Homo sapiens: one gene and its partner. The protein of the gene in region 1 interacts with the protein of each later gene in a pairwise test. Each region holds a gene or a part of one and is shown on either strand. Other genes may lie near its edges.

Region 1 (3,820 bases):
TGAAGACATGACTATTAAATATAATGTGATGAGCAGGGCACAGTGGCTCATGCCTATAATCCCAGCGCTTTGGGAGGCCAAGTGGGGAGGACTGCTTGAGGCCAGGAGTTTGAGACCAGCTGGGCAACTTAGTGAGACCCCATCTCTACAAAAAATTTAAATACATATATGTATACACGTACATATATAGATATATATTTATATGTATGAAATATTTTGGAGCAAAACAACGACAGGTAAAAACAAAGGAAATGTGAAAGCGTATGGACTTCAGTTACTTATAATGAATTAACATTGTTTATTAACTGCAACCAATGAATGACACTAATGTTAGGTGGTAATAAAGAACCAGAGTAGAACTAGGATAAGTTAAGAGTAGGGATTCAGGCTTGAAAATCTATTCCTAAGTGAACATAGGGAAATGAGAATCATATACATTATTGTTTAGTAAATACAGCTCTTCAAAATGACGCATACATATTTCTTAAAGCTCTAGCTAAAGACAAAGAAACTGAATATAAGAAAGATGATTTTTTACATGTTAAAAGACAATACATAATTTTATTTTACTAGGAGCAAAGACAATAAGGAGATTAAGAATAACTCCAAAACCAGATTCCTCCTTACCTCACATTCTGAGTAGGATTCCACCTTTCAGAAGGCAGTTCTCCACTCTGTGGGTCATCTACAGGCGGATGAAGAATCGAAATGCATACATCTCCATTCTACAAGACACAAACATTACATTCAGTAAATACTCAAAAAGTGATGTACAAAAAGGGACATCGGTTCTAAAGTTTCCTTTATTCCTAGAAACTGTTTCTTCATCAAAGGAGAAAACAATTCTGCTTTTTATGTTCAACATCAAAGATAAATAATAATTAAGCATTTTAAAAGTATTTATTTTGACCAATCTCCAAGGTATATTTTCTAGTGAGAAGACTTACTATTCCTATAGAACAATCCTGATGAAACAAACGATCCCTATGTTTACTTAGGAACATTAAAATATAATATTTATTTCGACCAATCTCCAAGGTATATTTTCTAGTGAGAAGACTTACTATTCCTATAGTACAATCCTGATAAAAAATTGACTGGGGCTGGGCGCGGTGTCTCACGCCTGTAATCCTAGCACTTGGGAGGCCAAGGCGGGTGGACCACCTGAGGTCAGGAGTTTGAGACCAGCATGGCGAAACCCCATCTCTACCAAAAATACAAAAATTGGCTGGGCGCGGTGGCTCACGCCTGTAATCCCAGCACTTTGGGAGACCAAGGTGGGCAGATCACAAGGTCAGGAGTTCGAGACCAGCCTGAACAACATGGTGAAACCCCGTCTCTACTAAAAATACAAAAATTAGCCGGGCGTGGTAGCACTCCCCTGTAATCCCAGCTACTCAGGAGGCTGGGGCAGGAGAATCGCTTGAACCTGGGAGGTGGGGGTTGCAGGGAGCCAAGATCGCGCCAATGCACTCCATCCTGGGCAACAGAGGGAGACTCCGTCTCAAAAAAACAAAAACAAAAGACAAAAATTAGCCGGGCGTGGTGGCACGCGCCTGTAATCCCAGCTACTCAGGAGGCTGAGGCAGGAGAATCGCTTGAACCCGGGAGGCGGAGGTTGCAGTGAGCCAAGATAGTGCTCCGGCCTGGGCAACACAATGAGACTCCATCTTAAAAAAAAAAAGACAAACATAATAAATCAAGACTCAATTGTCTTAGAAGCAGCCAAATATATATCCCTTTGTTTTCAGATATATCTGTGTACCTAGAGTACATAAAAAGGAAGAAAAAATATCTAACCTTGCTTAATATCTACTCAGATAGATGCTATGTCAATAACCATGACTTATATAAACCAAAAATATGCCTCGCAGCAAATGTTAACATCCTCAAGGTATGGTTAGAATGACTTCCCACTATGGCTATTATATTTTGCTTCATAAACTTAACACAACTTAATCCACAAGTACATTTAGGTTAATTCATACACATATGGATTGCCCACCATGTGCAATACAGAACACAATTCAATAGAAAAGATAAAGTTAGGTAAAATACAGTGACTTATCTCTTGGACTTAGCCTAACATGGAAGGTAAGATTTATTTATTTATTTAACTTCTTTCTGTCTTTAGAGATGGGAGTCTCACTATGTTACCTAGGCTGTAGTGCAGTGATTATGCATAAGACAACCATGGTGCACTGCAGCCACTAACTCCTGGCCTCAAGTGATCCTCACACCTCAGTAGTCCCATAGCTGGGACTCTAGGGTGTGCTACCACACACGACTTAAGATTTATATTTTTAAAAAACTGGAGGTATAACTATATAAAGTGCAAAAATCTTACATATACAACCCAAATTTAGACACATAGAAACTATATGAATATATATGTAACCATTATCAATATAAAATATTTTTAAAATAAAATTAATACAAAATATTATATTCTAACACACTGCCTTATGGTTAGATACCATAAGGCATGTAAAAAGTTACTACAGATAAAAGAAGAGAGAGGCCAGGCATGGTGGCTCACATCTGTAATCCCAGCACTTTGGGAGGCTGAGGCAGGCAGAGCACAAGGTCAAGAGTTTAAGACCAGCCTGGCCAGTATGATGAAACCCCATCTCTACTAAAAATACAAAAATTAACTGGGCGTGGTGGCACCTGTAATCGCAGCTACTCAGGAGGCTGAGGCAGGAGAATCCCTTGAACCCGGGAGGCAGAGGTTACAGTGAGCTGAGATCACGCCACTGCACTCCAGCCTGGGCGGCAGAGCGAGACTCCATCTCAAAACAAAAACAAAAAACAAAAAGAAGAGAGCCGGGCGTGGTGGCTCACGCCTGTAACCTCAGCACTTTGGGAAGCCAAGGCGGGCAGATCACCTGAGGTCAGGAGTTCGAGACCAGCCTGACTAACATGGAGAAAACCCATCTCTACTAAAAATACAAAATTAGCCAGGCGTGGTGGTGCATGCCTGTAATCCTAGCTACTCGAGAGGCTGAGGCAGGAGAATCACTTGAACCTGGGAGGTGGAGGTTGTGGTGAACCGAGATTGTGCCATTGCACTCCAGCTTGGGCAACAAGACCAAAACTCCATCTCAAAAAAAAAAAAAAAAAGAAAAAAGAAAAGAGAAACTTGGTATATTTGGGCAGTGAATGCGTGGGAGGTGGGGTGGAAGATAAAAGGCTTTGTTGTTGAGGAAGCTTTGAGATGAGCTTTCCTTTAATAATAACAATTTAAACAACCTATGGGAAATGTAGAAATGAGTTTTTCTGGCCAGGTGCAGTGGCTCACGCCTGTAATCCCAGCACTTTGGGAGGCCGAGGCAGGCAGATCACTTGAGGTCAGGAGTTCGAGACCAGCCTGACCAATATGATGAAACCCCATCTCTACTAAAAATACAAAAATTAGCCGGGCGTGGTGGCACGCACCTGTAATCCCAGCTACTCGGGAGGCTGAGACAGGAGAATCACTTGAACCCGGGAGGCGGAGGTTGCGGTGAGCCGAGATCACACCATTGTACTCCAGCCTGGGCAACAAAAGCGAAACTCTTGTCTCCAAAAAAAAAAAAGAGTTTTTCTGAATCCCAGCACTTTGGGAGGCCGAGGCCAGCGGATCACGAGGTCAGGAGATTGAGACCATCCTGGCTAACATGGTGAAACCCCGTCTCTACTAAAAATACAAAAAATTAGCCGGGCGTGGTGGCAGACGCCTGTAGTCCCAGCTACTCAGGAGGCTGAGGCAAGAGAATGGCGTGAACCCAGGAGGCGGAGCTTGCAGTGAGCTGAGATCGCGCCACTGCACTCCAGCCTG
Region 2 (3,805 bases), on another chromosome or scaffold:
GAAGTATGTGAGACATGGTTTCAGTCTTCAAGGAATTCACAGCCAAAGTTGATATATGAGATAGGCTCTTATGAAAATTTACATAATCTGTGTCAGTTCCTTGTAAGGAACTCATCAGCTGTGAGGAACTCAGCGTGGATCTGTTGGTGTTTGTCTTGGGAGAGGAATACATTGCCATTTTAAGGGAGAGGATGTTAACATCAGCCAAACAAAATCAAATCCAAACTTCAGCGTGGATATTCTTCTGTCAACTCCTCCCCTCCTTGGTTCTTAACTGATATCCTTTATTTGCTGTTTTGGTAACTCTTGAACCCCATCCTCTCCACTCCCTCCCGGTCTTGGTTCCATCATTTCTTCCTTTTCTGATATCTCTTTTTAGCTTTTTTGAAAAAAAAAATTAATTATAGTACAAAACATAAAATGTACCCTTAACCATTTTTAAGTGTTCACTCATATTAGGTATATATATATTGATGTGTAACAGAGCTTTATAACTTTTTCATTTAGCAAAACTCAAGCTCTGTACCCATTAAACAACAGCTCCCCACTCCCGCTCTTCCTAACCCCTGACAACCACCATTCGACTTTTTATGTAATTTTGACAACTCTAGATACCTTATATTAGTGAAAAATCATACAGCGTATTGGTCATTTTGTGACTAGTTTATTTCACTTAGCAGTGTCGTCTTCAAGGTTCATTCTAGTTGTAGCATGTGATCCTTAAAAGGATCAGTTTAAATCTTTAAAAGGATTTCCTTCCCGTTAAGGCTTAATAGCATTCCATTGTGTGTGTGTATCGCATTTTGTTTGTCCATTCATCCATCCATGGACACTTGGGTTGTTTACACCTCTTGGCTTTTGCAAATAATTCTGCAGTGAACATGGGAGTGCACATACCTCTTTGAGATCCGGATTTCAATTCTTTTGGTTACATACTCAGGCATGGGATTGCAGGAAGACTGTCATCTCTCTCATCTTACTCAACAGGCTGCTTCTCCCCAGTGTACATACAGACTTGAGTCTTTCTTATCTCTTTTTTCCTAAAAGAACAAAAAAATTTATTTAAATGTGAGAATTATGGGAAACCTAAGCCATGGGAATTGGACACTCATGGGGGTCTTCTGTGAAATGGGACTTGCCCCCACCTTCTGCAGCCTGAAGCTTTTGCAGTTTCGCCATCAGTTCTTTGGCGGGGTTAAAGATGCCGCCGGTTGGCTGGTCACAGATGTAGCAGCGCGGGGTGGCCCGGAAGTGCTCCAGCGCGCAGCTCTCGCAGAAATAATGCCTGCACTTGGTGACGACTGGGTTTTGGAAGGCCTGGCGACATATGAAACACCTGAATGGTATTTCCTCTTCCTCGCTTCCCACTTCATGGTTTTCGTCCTCGCAGATACAGTAGCGACCCTCTTCAAGCTCCCGTTCAATCTCCCACCCGAGCTTGTAATCGGAACGGTCGTGGAGGAATTTGCAGCTGTCCCCGAAGCCACAGAAGCCAGTCTCCTTGTAGTCCTTGCAGATGTCAGGCTGGTAATCCCAGCGCACAGTGGCGCGCAGATGCCCTGGCGCACGTATGGGGCCCTTCCTCGCCATCCCCGAGGAGGAGTTGCCCATGGACGTGTCCTTGGGCTTCAGGTACCTCAGGTAGCTGTGGATTCCCCGGTAGATGTGGTCGTGCTCCCGACCCCGCAGTGCCTCCTGGACCCGCTGGCTGCACTTGAGGATGGTCGGCGTATGGTGCTCCTTCTCGGTGTCCTGCTCGAAGTCAGCGGTGGCCCCCATGTCCTCTGGCCCCACAGGCTTCGCCGAGCGGGTGGACCTGTACACCACGTCGAGGCTCTCAGGCGCCGCCTCCTCGCCCCTCCTGTCGCCGTGAGCCGCCTTCTGCCAGCTGTGGAGGCCCCGGGGCCTCGGTGCCACCCGCGGGGGCTGAGCCACTGTGTCGCCCTCGTCCCCGCTGCTGCTGCTCTCTCCGTGCTCGGGGTCGCAGGCCGGGCGCTTTCTGAGGCCTGCAGCCCCTTTCCGTCCAGGCTTTTTGAAGAGGAAGGTGCATACCTGGTCTGCTTGGTCGGCCGTCCTTCCTGGAGAAGGTGGCGCTGCCATGTTTGAGTCTCAGGCTCCCAACGGCCGTGGCGTGCGTCACCCTTGCGTCGCCCTTGCGTCGCTGCACGTGGGGCGTGGGCCCTCCCAGTTCTAAAAAGCAAAAGCAAGTGAAAGAAAAGCTTCTGCTAGGCCAGGCGCGGTGACTCACTCTTGTAATCCCGGGACACTGGGAGGCCGAGGTGGGAGAATCACCCGAGGTCAGCAGTTTAAGACCAGCCTGGCCAACATAGCGAAACTCCATCCTTACTAAAAATACAAAAATTACCTGGGTGTGGTGGCGTGCGCCTGAAGTCCCAGCTACTAGGGAGGCTGAGGCAGAAGAATCGCTTGAACCCAGGAGGCAGAGGTTGTAGTGAGCCGAGATCACGCCACTGTACTCTAGCCTGGGTGACAGAGCGAGACCCTGTCTCAAATTAAAAAAAAAAAAACCAAAAAAAAAGGCTTCTCCCGCCCTTCCCTCCCTTGACCTGCCTCCTGGCCCTCAGATGGATTCCTTGAGAGAGTCATCTTCACTTGCTCCTCAGCTCCCTCAGTGCACACTCATTTTTCAACAGATTCCTAAAAGGCCACGGGTGGAATCATTCCAGGCCATAGCGAACCGGTGGTGCTCATCCTAAAACACAGGCGCTTGAAATGCGTATTTAAAAGCAACACACGCGCAGTGCAGAAAACAAAAACAGATACAAGCAAAAAGTAAGACGCCTATAATCCCTCCCCTCAAAGATAACCACTGTCAACACTTTTGTGTCTATTCTTTTAATATAGCCTTTATTAAAAGACTGTCATATCACACTGCACCTGTGGGTGTGTAGCTGGCTTTCATTTTGAAATAAAAGTAACACATGTAAACATTTAAAAAAATATTATCAAGCACTTATTGTAATGGAAATTGGCTGTCCCCTGCCTGGCCCCTCCACACGCCAATTCCTGGTACCTAAGATAATCATTTTTAATTTTTTTTTTTTTTTTTTTTTTTTGAGAAAGAGTCTCGCTCTGTCGCCCAGGCTGGAGTGCAGTTACATGATCCCGGCTCACTGCAACCTCTGCCTCCCGGGTTCAAGCAATTCTCCTGCCTCAGCCTCCTGAGTAGCTGGGATTACAGGTGTGTGCCACCACACCCAGCTAACTTCTGTGTTTTTAGTAGCGACAGGGTTTCACCATGTTGGCCAGGCTGGTGTGGAACTCCTGACCTCAGGTGATCCACCCACCTTGGCCTCCTAAAATGTTGGTATTACAGGCGTGAGCCACTGCACCCCGCCTTCAAATATTTTTAACCCTTTTTTTTCTTGAGTTTATCTTCAAGTTGTGAAATAATTCATTTATATAATGTAAATGGATTCTAGTTCTTATTTAGCCAGTGCATGTCATAAAGTGTTACATGCAATTTCTTTTTCTAATTTAGGTTCTATCTCTTTACTTACTAGAATGGAAGATGAGATTCAGCTCACTTGTAGTGCCCCCAAAACACTGGCTGCTGTGGGATGAGGGAGAAGTTGTGTGGGTCTCTCTTCCTAGACACCAAGGCATCCTCAGCTGTTGGAAATGTGATGAATAAGCTTACAGTGTAAAGAACAATTCATCATTTGTCAGTTTTCTCTTAGGATAGTAATTCTAGATTTTTCTTCAACTGTTATCATCCCATCTTTCATGTTGGAAGCTTTTCTAAAATACTTGGTTATCTCCAGCTGTTTATACTTCAGAGTGA

The links.
Region 2: the proteins of UBE2R2 (region 1) and RNF113B interact in a two-hybrid assay, tested with the Homo sapiens proteins (one large-scale study listed by BioGRID and IntAct).

The regions. Positions count from the first base shown.
Region 1 is NC_000009.12:33,897,079-33,900,898, reverse strand, and holds part of UBE2R2 (ubiquitin-conjugating enzyme E2 R2), read right to left. Parts: intron 726-3,820; coding exon 628-725; intron 1-627. UniProt on the Homo sapiens protein: E2 ubiquitin-conjugating enzyme that accepts ubiquitin from an E1 ubiquitin-activating protein, and catalyzes its covalent attachment to other proteins by an E3 ubiquitin-protein ligase complex.
Region 2 is NC_000013.11:98,175,137-98,178,941, forward strand, and holds RNF113B (RING finger protein 113B), read right to left. Parts: upstream 2,134-3,805; 5' UTR 2,101-2,133; coding exon 1,146-2,100; intron 1,041-1,145; coding exon 1,027-1,040; 3' UTR 649-1,026; downstream 1-648.